Regions from separate parts of the Homo sapiens genome. Here region 1 is linked to region 2. Evidence: fine-mapped expression QTL. A gene starts in region 2. The other region holds a variant in brackets. All regions are shown on one strand. Distances are from middle to middle. Region 1 overlaps LOC101929028 (a long non-coding RNA gene). Region 2 holds the start of MSR1 (macrophage scavenger receptor 1).

The links. PIP is the estimated chance that this variant, and not a neighbour inherited with it, causes the effect.
Region 1: its variant is fine-mapped to the expression of MSR1 in monocytes (Quach 2016, PIP 0.95).

Annotation. Positions count from the first base shown.
Region 1 is chr8:16,545,214-16,553,969 of GRCh38, forward strand. The region is part of intron 6 of LOC101929028 (a long non-coding RNA gene); the gene reads right to left. Among named protein-coding and RNA genes, the nearest start is that of MSR1, 360 kb to the left of the region's middle. The variant T/G (reference allele first, on the strand shown) is at 5,056.
Region 2 is chr8:16,187,691-16,196,446 of GRCh38, forward strand. MSR1 (macrophage scavenger receptor 1) reads right to left here and starts at 4,961. Exons shown (of 10, transcript NM_138715.3): 1 at 4,908-4,961.

The DNA of each region.
Region 1 (8,756 bases), 360 kb after region 2:
AGAGAGAGGGGCTCCCAAGTGGGTCTTCCGGTTTCTTGGTGAAACGCATGGGGTTTTATAGATGAGAAGGAACTGGTGGCCCCACCCTAATCTTTTATTGTGAAGATGGGTTCTCTGTCTGGCCACCTCCATGTTGCCGGTTCCTTTACCGTACACGTGGTTGACAAAGAAAAGGGAAAAGGGAGCCTCAATGTTGAACATGCCTGGCCCCCAGGTAGCCTTATCCTATTGGCACAGCTGCCAGCATTCACCCGTGCAAGCATCCAGCTTGCCTTATCTACGTCTGCAGTTCGATTTTACAGGCTGCTCTTTGTTAGAGAAGGAATGATATGGGGGCTGCGTTTTTGTAAAAAGGGAAGCCTTACTGAGGACTCTCTTACCCTCACTAACTGCCTAAATAATTTCTTTTTAAGCTCCTTATCAACACTGCTGTACTCTTAAAAATGGTAAAGATGGTAAATCCTGTTTTTTATCACAATAAAAAAATTAAGAAAAAAGATTGTACTAAAGGCTCTAGACAGTGTAATAAGGCCAGAAAAATAAAAGATTTAATAATTGGAAAGAAAAAAAGACTATCATTATTTGCAGATGCATGATTGTATAATATAAATATACCAAAGGTCGAGAAACTATGGTAAGAATATTTAATCAATTCATACTTTTATTATTAGATATAGTAATTTTTAGCAAAAAGCATCTATTTGCCACCTAGAAATAATCCCACATAAAGTTAGACAAGAACTTTATACCAACAAATGATAAAATTTTGTATATTAAAGCAGACTATAATAAATGGAGAGATACTCTATGTGTAAAGACAGGACAATTAGTTCAACCCAAACTGGCTTATGAATTTAATACAATTCCAATGGAAACTACATTTCTTTAGTTAACTGATATTATGATTTGAAATTTTATTTGAAAATCTCGTGGGCAGTGACAGCTAAAGCACTCACCAAGAAATATTATCAAGTTTTATTACAAAGCTAGAGTAATTTGTATAGAACCCCAAAACCGAACCAACCTATACAGAAACTTGTTACATATAAATACTGTGTATTAGAGAGAAAGACAGGACTTAGTAATTAGTGCTGAGACAATGTGTTATCCATAAGGGGCAAACAATAGTGATAGAACACTTATCTCACAGCATGCTTTAGAACAGGAGAGAAAGAAAGAAATGTGTAAAACTTAACAATTGTTTATGGCCTAATATACAGAATGATGTCCTAAACAAAATACCAAAAAGTAATTATATTAAGAACTCTTGGGGGTAGGGAGGAAATGGGGATATGTAGTTCCAAGGCTGCTAAGTTGCAATTAGTAGAATGAATAAGTTTAGAAATTTAATGTACAGCACGAGGATAATAGCTAATAATATTGTTTTGTATACTGGAAGTGTGCTGAGAGAGTAGATTTTAGGTGACCTCACACACACACACAAACACACACACACACACACACACATGCACTCCAAGGGATAACTGTAAGATGACAGATATGTTAATTTGCCTGAATATAGGAACTATTTCATTATGTATATTAAAAAATTATCTTGTATACTTAAATATAAACTATAAAATATTTCTTAAAATCTCTTAAAATTTCATTATCACTAAATTTAATAAGAAATTTGTTCATTAAGGGGAACCTTTTAAAAACATAGAAAACAAACCACAAATTGGGAAAAGATACTTGAAAATGATAAATCAACAGAAAATTAATAACATGAATTTATAAAGTTCTCCTTCAAGTTGACAAACAGAAGACCACCCAATAGAAAGATAGGGCAAGAGATATGAATAGGCAGTTCCAAAGAAGAAACCCAAGTGGTCAGTAAGCACATGGTAATATATTCAATCCATCACGAATTAGAAAAGTACAAGTTAAAACCAATCAAAATGAGATATAATTTTACAGTGACCATCATAGCAAAAATGTAAAAACAAAGTTGGACAAAAACAAATATTGGTGAGAATGGGAAGCCCAATAGGAATTCTTATATACAGTTTGTGGTCATGTAAATTTATATGGCAATTGCTGTATGCAGTTGGGTGAATTTGTATTTGTCAGTTTAGCTAGACCAAGTTATGTTTCCCAGCACTGCTGTCTTGCTTAGTTCTAAGTTAATGCAAGCCACAAGAGATATTCTGTGCAAGAGCTGGCAGGTAAAAGTGAAACAGCAGCTATGTACCTATGCTTGAAACAAGAATTGAGAACACCACGTACGAATTCAGCTTACACGTATTGTCAGTTGCTGCTGGCTCACTGGGGCTGTATGGGGCACCATTTGGCCCACAGCACTTAAACATCCTGTGGCTTCTGCAGGATCCTAGTTGGGACAGCATATCTGCCCCAGGGATATTTCATTCTTTCTGGTGGCATCTTTTTTTTTTCTAGGAGGAAGCACCTGGTATTACTAAGAATTATGCTTCCTGTCAATGATACCGACCTGACTTCAGCAGAAAGAAAGCGCACTGACATTATATAACCATAAGTTGTAAAAGAGAGGGGAATTTAATTCTGTGATGAAGGACATCATGCTCTCCTAGAAGGTATTCTTATGGTCAAAGTTGAAGTCTCAGAGGCAGAGGGAGAAATATGAAGGTTTCAATTTGCCATCATGGATTCCAGCTTATCCATCCTCTGTTCTACTTAGTATCATCTTGCCTTCCTGACTACCCGCTCTACTGATGTTAGGCTCCAACCCCAAGCACAAAACAGCTTTATACAGACTTTAACCAGCTGCTACAAATATATAAGGTCAAATTCTTATCATAAGTTTCTTATCACATATATAAGTAGGATTCTGTTTCTTCGATTTAATCTCAACTGTTTCAACTGATTATGACATAGACATAATAAGACAAATTGCAGCAAGTAATGGCTTGACATTTTATTAACCATGAAAAAATACCAACTTTTCATTTATTTAAAGACAAAAACAACACATAAAATTCACCTCTCTTAAAACTTATGGTCTGTGTGCTTTCTTTCTCCTGAACTCAGGTCAGTATCACTGACAGGAAGTATAACTCTTAGTAATACCAGGTGCTTCCTCCCAGAAAAAAGTAGAGGCCACCAAAAATGCTGAAATATCCCTGGGGCAGATTTAGGTGTCACCTGACACACATAGAGCATTTGTGCAGAGACTAAAAGATTGATCTGAGAAACCACTTCCTGGGATGAAATGAAAGCCAGGCAGAGAATCCCATACCCAAATATAATCTAAAGGGGTTAAACTGAGAAAAAGAACACCGGTGAGACAAAGGGATTTAAACTGGAGGAACAAGGAAAGAAAAAGTGAGTATATATTTGAAGGTGAGAGGTAGAGCCTAGAGGAATCCATTGAGGCAAAGGAAGCCAGCTCTAGCTAGTTGTTTTTCTAATGGTCCCTGGTGACTAAAAGGCAAGTCACAGCCATGATTTTACTATTACCATTACATTTTTTTCATAAAGCATCTTTAAAGACACTGCAGAAATCTGGGGGGAAACTTCAACAACATGTTGATCCAAAGAACGAACTATAAACATATTACCTGTCAACTGCAACACTAAAATATAGATCAGTTAAACTAGTCATAATGACATGTAAACCTCATATATCTGGACTTCAGTATTTTGATCAATATCTTGAATGCCCTAATAGTCTGGCTATAGATTGATATCTGGCAATAAATGATTAACTTGTAATGTATGAAAATACTGTTTAGCTTTCATAAAATGAGTAGTAGTAATTTGAATGTATGATTTCAATGGATTTTAAAATATTTCTAAAGAAAGAAAAATAATGACTCCAACTCTTTAGCAAAAATATCATGAGACATATAACCAAAACAAAAATGTCTTGACTCTGAATAAAAATTTTTTTTTCAGTTTTCAGCTATTTCGTTCAAATTTGTGTCTCCATATTCACTGTGCTTTCTGTTTTGGTACAAAAATATTTTCTTAAAATTGGATGTAATAATGATCAACATTTTGCATTGTATTTTAAATTTAATGTAGAGTTACTTGACTTAATTCTGTGGCAACTTTTTGTGAAGTGGGGTATCTTTATTTATGTTCCTAATTTTAGCAAAGTTTTGTCATTACAAGCAACCTCAGTAAGTATTATATACAAAAGTATGTAAACAGTTTCAATAATATGCATTCTAAAACATATCATTTCTAATGATAAAATTTTATATTCTCCGATTTATAATTTCACAGTCACTACTAAAAAAACTTTTGAATATTAGAAAAAACTACATTGCTCATTTTGGTGAATGAACTTAGCCAGAAACTCAATTTGCAAATAATGAAATCTAAAATAAGTGTAAATTTTATTAAATATCATGGGGAAAGAATTTGAGGTAACTGGGAAGTAAATGTCTACTAATCTTATTTTTGGGTCTAAACAATGGTAACCTAGAGGTTTGCATTCTCAAAGGCATTTATGTCCAATAGATTTACATAATCCCAAAGGTTCTCTAAATAAAAATTTGTGGGTTCTGGCTCTACTATAACATTAATCAAGATCAAATTAAGGATTTATGGCTTATAATAAAGTAGTTCCAGTGTCTATCACCTATTTTTCTAAATAGTTCATCAACTGGCTTTTACACTAGATTAAATTCCTTCCCTGTAGAAGAAAACAGCTCAAGTCTTAACTCCTACAATTTATATGACAAATAAAAATCAATACAAGTGTTCTTGTTAATGGTCTTATAAGAAAAAGCCAGAATATCTGGAACAGGAGACAAAAGAACTCCAGGGTCAAGTCTACTCATCTTTGGATTCCAGCATCTTAGACTTCCCAAGAATAATGGCTCTCATATTACCCTCTTACCTTCTGAACTGCAATCTTTCTTGAATTATGAGCCTAACTGTGCATGGCAGAAGTGTTTCTTTAACAATCCTAACTTTATCACACTGAAACACTACGAGACAGTGCAATAAACCCATCTTCATAGCTTTAAATATTACTATAATCTAAGAAGTACAAATGTTAGGGAATTTCATAGATATTGGAAATGAATCATCTGTTTAAACCCTATCACTTTTTATTTGAGGAAA[T/G]TAAAGATCTTCAAAACATAAACACTGAGCCCAAAGTCATAGGCCTAAAGAGAAAATTTAAACTAGAACATAGACACGTGATTTGTAGCTAATATTATCATCCAGTTGGACGTATGAGCATAGGAATTTAGAGCAGAAAGACAGTCTAATTCTATCCCTTTATTTTATAGACAAGCAAACTGGGCTATAATGATTTCAAATTTGCTTAACGGAGTGAAATTATCCATAGGGTTTGTGAAATCAAATGCTGAAAGCCCAAAAAATGCTTCCTTCTGTTTTGATATATAAGCAGAAAGCACTGCCTTAATCTATATTCTTTCAGAATCTTTTTTTCTGGCAGTAGTTATGACTTTTCTGTACTTTGAGGCCCAAATAGCTTTGTTTCAAAACAAAGTGCATTTTCAAAAGCAATTTTCTAATATCAAAATAATAATACAATCAGCCAAAACACTCACTAAATCAGGCACTCTACCAGGTTCTCTTCTAGGTATAGGACAAGACAAACAACTAAAGCAGTTTCATTCTAGAAAGACAGACAGACAAGCTGAGACCTAGCTACCAAGCAGGCAAGCAGATAAATAAATATAAGATTATTTTAAGTATTAATAAATGTGATGGCCAAAATTCAAAACTCAACATTGAGTGAGACTATGTCCTAATCAGAATGATTCAATAACTAAAAAAAATAGTTTATTCCTAGCAAGTGTCTTGTAAAGAGGGAGTTCCAGGAAGAGAAATTTCTGTGCCAATTCATACAGACTACTAAAAATCGCTAGAGGAGCTATATTGCTTTGGTTTATTTGTTAAAGTACCAAAGTGTTTTCAACAGCGTGGGAACCAATGAAGTAAGAGTGAATAAAACACTTTAATTTGAAGCAAAACATTCTCTTTCTCTCTCTCTCTCTCTCTCTCCCTCTCCCTCTCTCTCTCTCTCTCACACACACACACACACACACACACATACACACACAACTCACAAACAAGCACAGAAAACCAAATATTTTAGATCACTGTGGCTGCTATAATAAAATACCATAAACTGGGTGGCTTGTAAACCACAGAAAATTATTTCATAGTGCTCTGAGGCTGGGAAGTCCAAGATCAAAGAGCCACAAATTCAGTTTCTGGCGAGATTCACTTTCTGATTCAGTGAGGGCTCCTTCTTTCTGTGTCCTCACATGGCTAAGGTTTGGGGGGTGGAGTTAGCACTCTGGGGTCTTTCTTAGAAAGGCTCAATTCGTAATCCCCTCCCAAAGATCCACCTCATAATACCATCACCTTGAGCGTTAGGATTTTGACACATAAATTTGGAGGGTGGCACAAGCACAAATGGATCATAGTAGCAAATGTGAAGAAAGTGAGGAGGGTGAGGAACCTCATCCCACAAGACATGCTACAAGAAACTCTGAGTTTCATTAAATCAGTGACTAATAAGAATATCTAACGATCTAATAATTGGTCTTATTCCTTCACCAGATTCTAGGGAAGACATCTAGGATATCGCACAATTTTCCTGTTTCCTAATTTCTAAGGCATATTTTCATTTTTTTTTACTTAAATCTACAAATTATTCAAATCTAAACATTTTTATTAAAAGTAACATAGGTCTACTTTAGAAATTTTTAAAAAATACGAAGATGTATAGGAAATGAAATATTTAAAAAGCATGACTATCTCGTCTCATTACTAGAGCTGTCTCCTAATTGATTTTCTTACTTTTCACTGTGGCCTTCTCCTCCAGCTTAGGATCCACTGCACAGTGATGCTGACCACTCTAAAATGCAGATATGATGACGGTACTCCTTGACTTAAAATATTGACATGACCCAACTCCTTATTCTCACTGTGTTCAAGGAATCCAGATTTGCAGTAGTTTAGAAGGCCGTGCATGTTCCTACCCCTGCTCAACTCTCCCACTTGATTTGTTTTGACTCATTCTGGGCCCTCTGAGGCTTTATGCCACCCATTTCTCCAAGGAAACATTTTCTTTAATTGCAAGACTCATGAGCATTCTGTGTCCTATACCTAAAGTACATAGAGGCAGGCACCACCCTTTTCACCAAACAAATCAGACACCCTTACATGACCAAATGAGACATAGCTTCAGCCAATATGAGTTTGATGTTTCTCTTATATTCCTTTGAAAGACTCTGTTGGTTTTCTCCACTTCATTGCTTTATATTATGATTATTTGTAAGTACCTTCTACATGCCAGTCATTGCTCTAGAGGGAAAAGAAGGAAGCAAAACACACAAAACAGCCACTCAGCAGCATTCTACATTCTAATAAGGAGAAGCAGACAATAAATAATACAATTTATAGATATCACACGAACAGATGTTAAAAAGTCCAATAAAGACTGGTTAGGGGAAAAAGATTTCTAGGGAATTCTCGTTTATATCAAGTGATCAAAGAGAAACCCAATGAGATAGGACATCAGAACAGAGATTGGAAAAAGTAAAGGAGCAAACCATGTGAATTTCTAGAAGGAATATTTTCCACGCTGAGGGAAAACAAAGTGAAAAGACTGAGAGGTTTCCACAATCCCTGTGTTTTCAAAGGTCAACAAGAATGCCAGTGTTGGAGTTGAGAGAAAAAGGAGAACATTTGAAAATGAGGCTTTCCATCTGGGATTCTCAAATGCTATTTTAAATCCAATATTTCTTTGATGTAACGGGGTAACCTGGACATTCTAGGATATTTAGCAACATCCGTGGACTCCATTCACTGGATGGTAGCAACATCCACAGCCCCCCAACTCCCTACCCCCATTGCCACCCAGTAATGATCATCAAAAATTATCACATTTTCCCTGGGGGAGCAAAATCAGCCAGCAATTGAAAACTGCTGTTCTAGAGGTAGCAAAAACAAGATTGTGCGAAGTGTTATGCGCCATATTCAAATATTTGCCTTTACCTTGAGTAAAACGTATGCCAATGTAAGACACTCAGCACAGAATTAACATGAACTTCAGTTATGAAAATCATTCCTGCTTTTGTGTTGAGAATAGGCTACAGGATAACAAGACAGAAATAGCACAGTAATCCAAGCAGGAGATAAAAGTTGTTCAGATCTGTACGACAGAAGTGGAAGTGATGAGAAGTGGTCACATTCTGGAAGGTCACCAGATTTCCCAGCATATTGTAATGGGTGTGAGAAAAAGATAGCAATCAAGGATAATTCCAATGTTTTGGGAACATTAGACTTGCTATGAACTGAGATACAGAAGGCTAAAATTGGAATGGGCTCTGAGAGAAAGAAAAAAGGAAAAAACAGTCATTAAGACTAAAAAGGTGTTGACACGGATGTGTTTAAAAGGGAACACTTCCACACTGCTGGTGGGAATGTAAACTAGGACAGTTACTATGGAAAACAGGGCAGAAATTCCTTAAAGAACTAAAAGTAGAAATACCGTTTGATCCAGCAATCCCACCACTGGTTATCCACCCAGAGGAAAGTAAGTCATTATACGAAAAAGATAATTGCAAACACAAGTTTAGAGCAGCACAACTTGAAATTGCAAAAATATGGAACCAGCCCAAATGTCCATCAATCAACAAGTGGATAAAGAAACTATGGTGTATATATAATACTACTCAGCCATAAAAACGAATGAATTAATAGCATTTGCAGCAACCTGGATGGAATTGGAGACCACTATTCTAAGTGAAGTAACACAGGAATGGAAAACCAAACATCGT
Region 2 (8,756 bases):
CTGGATTTTATATCTTAGGTTATGCCTCAAGAAAACTTTGTGGTTCACTAAAGTAGGGATTTTAAAAATTCTTCTGTTACATATTGGAAAATAAAATATTTCTCTCTGCACTGCACGTAACTAGCAAACTGAAACAAAAAATATTACCCTCAGTGAACCCACTTTGCTTCAAAAGCATTTATTATTAAAATTACCAGATTATTTCAGCTGCTTACTCTGGTTATAATCATTGTAATTTTTTAGTAACGTGAACATACATACTTGCATGAGCCTTCATTAGCAGGCAGTGAACAACTCACACTGTTCAAGTGTGCCTTTTAATATCAGTTCCACAGTTAGGACAAAAAGTAGCTTCACATAAAGTTACTCTTCCTATTAAATGTCAGTGTGCTGATAAACGATTGTAAAATCCTTGGAGTTTGTGTAATCTATTAAAAGCACGTGCTCATGAGAAGTGAAACACGTTTCTGTAATATCAGCATTTTATCAAGTGGATGAAAAGTTTACAGGAAATTCATAATGAAAGAATTTCAAGGTTAATTTGTTGGGAACCATATACCTTACTTTTTTGTTTTTATTATAAAACATTTTAATAATATTATAGATATGTTAGGATGAAATTTCTGTCATCTCATCACCCTAATAAAGGAAAAAAACCCTTAATTTTTTAAATGAAACTCGAGTCTTTGGATGTATGTATACCTGTAACATAGTTCATATCATCATGCACGTATCATTTGGTATTACGCGTTTTCCTTAAAATCACCTCATTATTTTAATATTTCAAACGAATTTTTCAAACTTGAAATTTTTTTTATTATTCTTTAGGTTCTGGGATACACGTGCAGAACGTGCAGGTTTGCTACATTGGTATACATATGCCATGGTGGTTTGCTGCACCCATCAGCCCATCATCTAGGTTTTAAGTCCCACATGCATTAGGAGTTTGTCCTAATGCTATGCCTCCCCTTGCCTCCCACCTACTGACAGGCCCCGGTGTGTGATGCTCCCCTCCCTGTGTCCACGTGCTCTCACTGTTCAACTGTCACTTATGAGTGAGAACATGCAGTGTTTCTTTTTCTGTTCCTCTGTTAGTTTGCTGAGAATGATGGTTTCCAGCTTCATCCATGTCCCTGCAAAGGACATCAACTCATCTTTTTTATGGCTGCATAGTAGTCCATGGTGTATATATGCCACATTTTCTTTACCCAGTCTATCACTGAGGGACATTTGGGTTGGTTCCAAGTGTTTGCTACCTAATAATTCAACACACATACATATATATATATATATATATATATATATATAAAACAACATATATATATGTGTTGAATTATTATGTAGCAAAGACTTGCTTATATATATAAAACCTTATTTTACATATATTTCATATATACGCAAAACCTTATTTTACATATATTTCATATATACGCAAAACCTTATTTTACATATATTTCATATATACGTAAAACCTTATTTTACATATATTTCATATATACGTAAAACCTTATTTTATATATATTTCATATATGTAAAATCTTATTTTATATATATTTAGATATAATCTTATTTTATTTATATTTCAAATATATAAAATCTTATTTACATTTCATATATATATAAAATCTTATTTACATTTCATATATATATAAAATCTTATTTTATATATTTTTATATATATTTTATATATATAAAATCTTATTTTATATATATTTTATATATATTTTATATATATAAAATCATATTTTATATATATAAAATCTTATTTTATATATATTTTATATATTTTATATATAAAATCTTATTTTATATATATTTTTATATATAAAAAATCATATTTTATATATATTTTATATATTTTATATATATGAAATCTTATTTTATATATATTTTATATATATTTTATATATATATAAAATCTTATTTTATATATATTTTATATATATATAAAATCTTATTTTATATATATTTTATATATATATAAAATCTTATTTTATATATATTTTATATATATATAAAATCTTATTTTATATATATTTTATATATATATAAAATCTTATTTTATATATATTTTATATATATATAAAATCTTATTTATACAGCCATTTTTCTAAATAAAAAATACAGCCATTTTTCTAAAATATAATTTTTTCTTTTAAACTTTTTTTCCTTTTCCCAGGGGGCAATGCTTCACTGATATAAATAATGATGTTATAAATATTTCCTTTTTTTTTTTTTTTTTGAGATTGAGTCTTGCTTTGTCACCCAGGCTGGAGTGTAATGGTGTGATCTCAGCTGACTGAAACCTCTGCCTCCTGGGTTCACGTGATTCTCCTGCCTCAGCTTCCCGAGTAGCGGGATTATAGGCGTTTGCCACCATGCCCAGCTCATTTTTGTATTTTTCACCGCGTTCATCCAGCTGGTCTCAAACTCCTGACCTCAGGTGATCCACCCTCCTTGGCCTCCCAAAGTGCTGGGATTACAGATGTGAGCCACTGCCCCGGCCATTATTTTCATAATTTAGCTTTCTTCTTTTAAAATGTTTCTTTAGGATAATTCATCATATGTGAAACTAAAAAGTGAAAGGAAAACTATTTTGAACTTCTTGGGCTCTACTGTCTTAGTGATCTTTAAAAAGATAACATAAATTTATAAATATTCCAGACTTATATGTGAATATGGCAGTTTCAAGCAAAATTCACTACCATTGAATAATAAAGCTTATTTTAGAATCATTTAGATTTTGATAAGAGTTAAATAATACCTAAAAGTGGTTTTCATTTTTATTTTTTATTATTAATGTAAGAGAGAGATTTCACTGTAATTGTCTGTCATACATTGTTCTTCTTGGGTTATTATCTATTCATATTCACTGCTTATACATCCCCACAGGTTTCTTTTACCTAAGCATGTGAATCAGCTCTTTATGTTTAATACATATTTACCATCTGTCTTTTCATACTTGACATGCATTCGTTTTCCTAAGATTTTTCCCTATTTAGTTTTTTTATCATATTCTTTCTTTTTTCTTTCTTTCTTTTTGTTTTTGAGATGGAGTTTCGCTCTTGTTGCCCAGGCTGGAGTGCAATGGCGTGATCTTGGCTCACCACAACCTCCGCCTCCTGGGTTCATGTGATTCTCCTGCCTCAGACTCCGGAGTAACTGGGATTACAAGCATGCACCACCACGCCCGGCTAATTTTGTATTTTCAGTAGAGACAGGGTTTCTCCATGTTGGTCAGGCTGGTCTTGAACTCCCGACCTCAGGTAATCCACCTGCCTTGGCCTCCCAAAGTGCTGGGATTACAGGCGTGAGCCACCGTGCCCGGCCCATCATATTCTTAAGGCCAACTTTATCTTCAACATTTGGAATAAATAATAAGCTTGTGATCCTCCTTATTATATAAAATAATAACTTTGATTTTTGTAACAGCAGTTGAATGTGTATATAAAATGAAAATTAAATTAAGATTATTTGTGAAACTAACAGCTTTATGCTTAAGGAACCCGTCTGTAAGACAGATTTTAGTAAGAAATGGAAATATTTATATTGTGCCTGATGTCACTGATATTCATCCTTGGTAGCAAAGAAGAAAGAGCATCAACTTTTGAATCTGAAATCTAGATTTGAGTATTGACTGTGACATCATTTAGCTGTGTGATCTTAGGCAAATATTTTAACTTATTTGAATTGAACTTTCTTTAGATATGTAAAATATGATCACAATATAAATTTAAAGAATTATTGCGAGAATTAAAAATAATTTTTGTAAATTGCCTGGTACACAGAAAACCATCAATATATGAATCCCTGTTATTTTAAAATATCACTTTTTTTTTAAATATGAGCTTTTCTTATTTTGTTCTCACGGAATCTTCATGAGGTACAAGTAGTATTTTCTCCATTTTACAGGTTAGGGAACTGAAATGTGTAAGTAACTAGTCAAGTTACTCAACTAGGGAGCAGGGGAGCTGGAATTTGAACACAGGCAGTCTACTCCCAGAAGATTAGCTCTTACCCACTGCATAAAACGGCTAATCACTGCATAAAACATCTGTAATCTCAGTTCTATGGTTTTTCTATAAGTATTTTTACCTGGTCAGTGCAAATGCCAACCTCCCATTATATGCTGTGTGAATCTTACTTAGTCTTCAAGATTAATCAGATTTCTAGCATCTCCATGAAGATTTATTTTTGATAGACTTTTTTCACATAGAAGTAATTTTGGCCTCGCCTATATTTTCATAGTAATTATCTATAGCATTTTCATACTACTTAAGGTGCTAGTAATTATCTATAGTACTTTCATACTACTTAAGGTGCTCAAATTACATTATGCCTATTTGGGGATATGTTTTAAATCATAAGATTCCGGAGCACAAAAAGAACTATATCTTATTTTTTGTATCCTTTCCCCACATCTAGTTCAATGAAGTGCATATAGTAGATACCCAGCCAATATTTGCTATATAATCAAGGGAAGATAATAAAAGGCATTAGATTAAAGCCAAAAATGTTCCATGAAAAGTTATGAAAGGAGAATAGGTGAAATATGTCAAATTATACTTTGAATAAAACCAGTATTTTAAACAAAATATGCTTAATTATATGAAAAAACCCCATTGCTGGTTCAAACTACAAAGCATTTAGTGTATTTCATATGTACTTGTGAACATATATGTTTTTCACTCATGGAAAATTTAGCAGAAATCCCTATTTTTTGATTATCGAAAAAAACCAAACCAAATTATTGCTGATACAATAAAGCATTCATCTCATCATACACACACAGACACACAAATATATATCACACACATGCATGCACACACACACACAGAGTACACACATAACAATCAATAGAAACAATTCTGGAAAAAACATTAAAATAAGCCTTTTTTTTTCTTTACCTTTCGTCCTAAAGAAAGCAGCACTGATTTATCCACTTCTCTCTCTTTACAATTGAAACCTAAAATCTTTATCTCATAGTATTTCAGCATCTGGTACATGAAGAAAGGAAATGACACATTCCTGCGTTGAAAATCTTTCTTAATGTGTTTCAATAGCACTCTCATCAATGCACAGGTTTGCAAAATCTAAATTTGTCAGATAACTCACTCTTCACCCCATTTAGGCCGCTTTAAAAAAAAAAGAGAAGTGAAAAGGAAAAGAAACAAGGGTTGTTGAAACAAGCACATAATTTACAGCAGATTGAGCTTTCCTTTTTTTTTGGAGATGGAGTCTCGCTGTCTCACCAGGGTGGAGTGCAGTGGTGTGATCTCCGCTCACTGCAACCTCTGCCTCCCAGGTTCTACAGGCGTGTGCCATCACACCCGGCTAATTTTTTGTATTTTAGTAGAGACAGGGTTTCGCCATGTTGGTCAGGATGGTCTTGATCCCCTGACCTCATGGTCCGCTCGCCTTGGCCTCCCAAAGTGCTGGGATTACAGGCGCGAGCCACCGTGCCCAGCCTGATCTTTCCTTTTTTATAAGTAATCTATGCCTTCTAAAACATACATTAATTCTCATGATCTCCTCTTTCACGTTACTATAATGTTGAGTAAAGACTCCATGTTTGGCTAGGTGTGGTGGCTCATGCCTGTAATCCCAGCACTTTGGGTGGCCGAGGTGGCTGGATCACTTGAGGTCAGGAGCTCTAGAACAGCCTGGCCAACATGGTGAAACTAGTCTCTACTAAAAATACAAAAATTGGCCAGGCATGCGCCTGTAATCCCAGCTACTCGGGAGGCTGAGGCTGAAGAATTGCTTGAACCCAGGAGGCGGAGGTTGCAGTGAGCAGAGATCGCACCACTGCACTCCAGCCTGGGCAACAGAGTGAGACTCCACCTCAAAAAAAAAAAAAAAAAAAAAGACTCCATGTTTAGAGATTCGAGTTTTTTTCTTAGATCCTTTTTCCTGTACCTTTATCCCTAGCCTCAAACACAAAACACGTGAAGAAAGAATATGATGCCTTAGTAAGAACAAGTAATAACCTAAAAGCACTCACTCCTGTTCTCTCTATAATGATAATAGCATTAATTTTTAGAGCACCAGACAAGTTGTTTATTTCCAGTAGTATAGTAGAGGGAAGGAATCTCAGGCATGGATCAGATGAAAGGGATGTTCTTTCCCTTCTGCCATCCATCAGGGTTTTATACAATTCAACTCCGTTATTTACTCACATTCAAGAAGTTCAAGTATGACTCACATGAAAACGTTCAACATTACATTAATGAGCTAAGTTTTACAACTGATATTTCTGGGAGAAGGTGTTTAGCTTATATTCCGTAGTCACTCTTTTGTGCCCAAACAGGAGAAATCATGCTTCCTACCAAAAGATGCCCCAAATTGCTGTGCCCATGGGCACCATCCTTCAGAAGACAATACGTCTGCAAGAAAGTATGCGGGAACAGCGCACGGTCTTTGAGAGATGCAAAGTAACAGTATTATTCAGTTATTCTTAAGGTAACCACTAAAAGGCTAATAGTAGTAGTAGGACAGGCATCAAAGTAAGCTGCATAATTTCTAACCAGGCAGCTTGAAGACTAGAAGTACGATCACAATTTGATCCAGCCTGGACCAGCATAAATGCTATTGGCTATTCCTCATCAAATTCTTACTGACACAGAACTGGAGACTACAAAACTCACACTCTTTCCTTTACAATTATTTGTACATGCTTCTTATTTTAAAATATAGTCCTTTTAGGTTTTTTTGTACAAAATCTGAAGTTTAAAATTTAGATATCCCTGACAATGCTACGTGATTAGAAAAGTCAGACTCTGGGAATAACAAGACACCAATCTCCCAAAATTCTATCCTAATGAGGTTTCTTTCTGTCAGTGTGCTTTATTTTCAGTATGTCTCTGTAATACTGTTTGGTGTATATCCACAGTGCTGACCACTTCCCTATGTGATGATTTCCACACTCTTCAGCCAATCTAATTTTTCATTAAAAAACTTCCCTTTTTATATGTCTAAATAGGTACTATATAATTTTATATAGTTTTATATATAATAATTATAGATTATGTAACATAATATTATCTATTAGGTCTTACTATATGTAAAAACACCTTTAGCAGGGAACCATGTTAAAAATGTTCAGTTCAAGCCAATGATTAATTGAGAACAGAGGTAATATGTAAAGGGTTGGGATTTTGCATTCATTCCTTCATTTGACTTCACAGCAACTTTGTCATATCACTTCCCTAATTGAGAAATTAATGTTTAGAGATGGTAAGTAAATTTCTCGAGATCAGAGTTATGAGTCATCAGAGCTGGTATTTAAACCCAGTCTGATTACAAAATTTGGCAAAATATAGTTTTTTCTTAAGCTGAAGTAGGTATATGTATTATTAGGGGACTATAATATCTCCATCAAAAACAGTATACAGAAAACAAGCCACAAATATGGGCAAATTCCAGATCATGTGGATAGTTACTTTGTTCATAGTTATTGTGATGGATCCCAATTACTTTATTTTTGTTGCTTATGGATATATGTGTCTAGAATGAGGTCCATGTAAGATTATGCCCAGTGACCAAACAGAGATTCATAATCAAATAGGCAAATGGCTTGAGAGAATTGATTCAAATGTCCTAGGACTCACTGTGGTACAGGTATACTGAACTCAAAAGAAGAGTTAACATTTTACACTCATTAAGAGGTATTTTTGTATGTCTAAAGTTACAGCAGGTTGTTAGTCATAATATATAGTTAATACATTATGACTTATTTATTGTATGATATATATATGATAAAGTTTCGAGATAAAATTTTTCATGTTCTTAATTCAAAGCAATAAGTAAATAGTGATATAAATACAGATTTTAATAATGCTGCAACGGACACATATTGCTGTGGGATTATAAAGCATTTACAGAATTATCAAAACATTCTTTAATAAAATTGACATTGAAAAATTGCATATTGGCAGAGCTTTTTCTTTGATAATCATAAGCAGAAAACTGTGAAGGTACCAGTAACATTTTATATAGCCTTATTAAACAGAACTTTCCTATATGAGAATTATTGAAGTCAAATACAGAAACAGACCAAGGACAGTATCAGAATTGAATAGTATCTTCCTTCTATTAAACCTATAATAATATTTTGGCTTGCCCACACAATCTTAAATTGGTGGTGTTAGTTAAAATTTTAATTTTTTTGCGAGATTTTAAAATTTAATTAACATATGCATTATATTTCAAAAACTTGGTTAAGAACTGTAGGCTTACAGTGTTTAGGTCTAAATTCGTGTTTCTCTATTTTAACATAAAATTATAATAAAATAATATATCAACACTTAATAAGGTATAGAGATCAATATATTTATTTTCTTTTGAGAAACACTGCACTATGCCATACTGTCTATTTTTAAAAGAAAGTTCATGGAAGACTTCTAGTTGCAGCTTCAACATCTAAAGAGCTTGGAAGTCATCACTCATATCTCGACACCACGAAAAAAGCTGGAGAAACTAAAAATCAATGACGTCTTGGACCCATCAGAGAACTGAGGTCTCAAGGAAACTACCAGCCTGAAACCGGGAGAGAGAGGAGATTACAGAGCATCACAGCAGACACCAGATCACCTGCAGCTGATGCCAGTGGAACCACAAACTGGCAGGAACACCTAAGCAGGAATTTGGCAAGAGGCTGAGTATGGACCAGTGTGAGCACTGGAGCCTCCTGGGGGCTGCAGTCTTCAAGGCGCCCCCTAAACACTTACAGGCTTTACTTCCAGGAATACAACTTG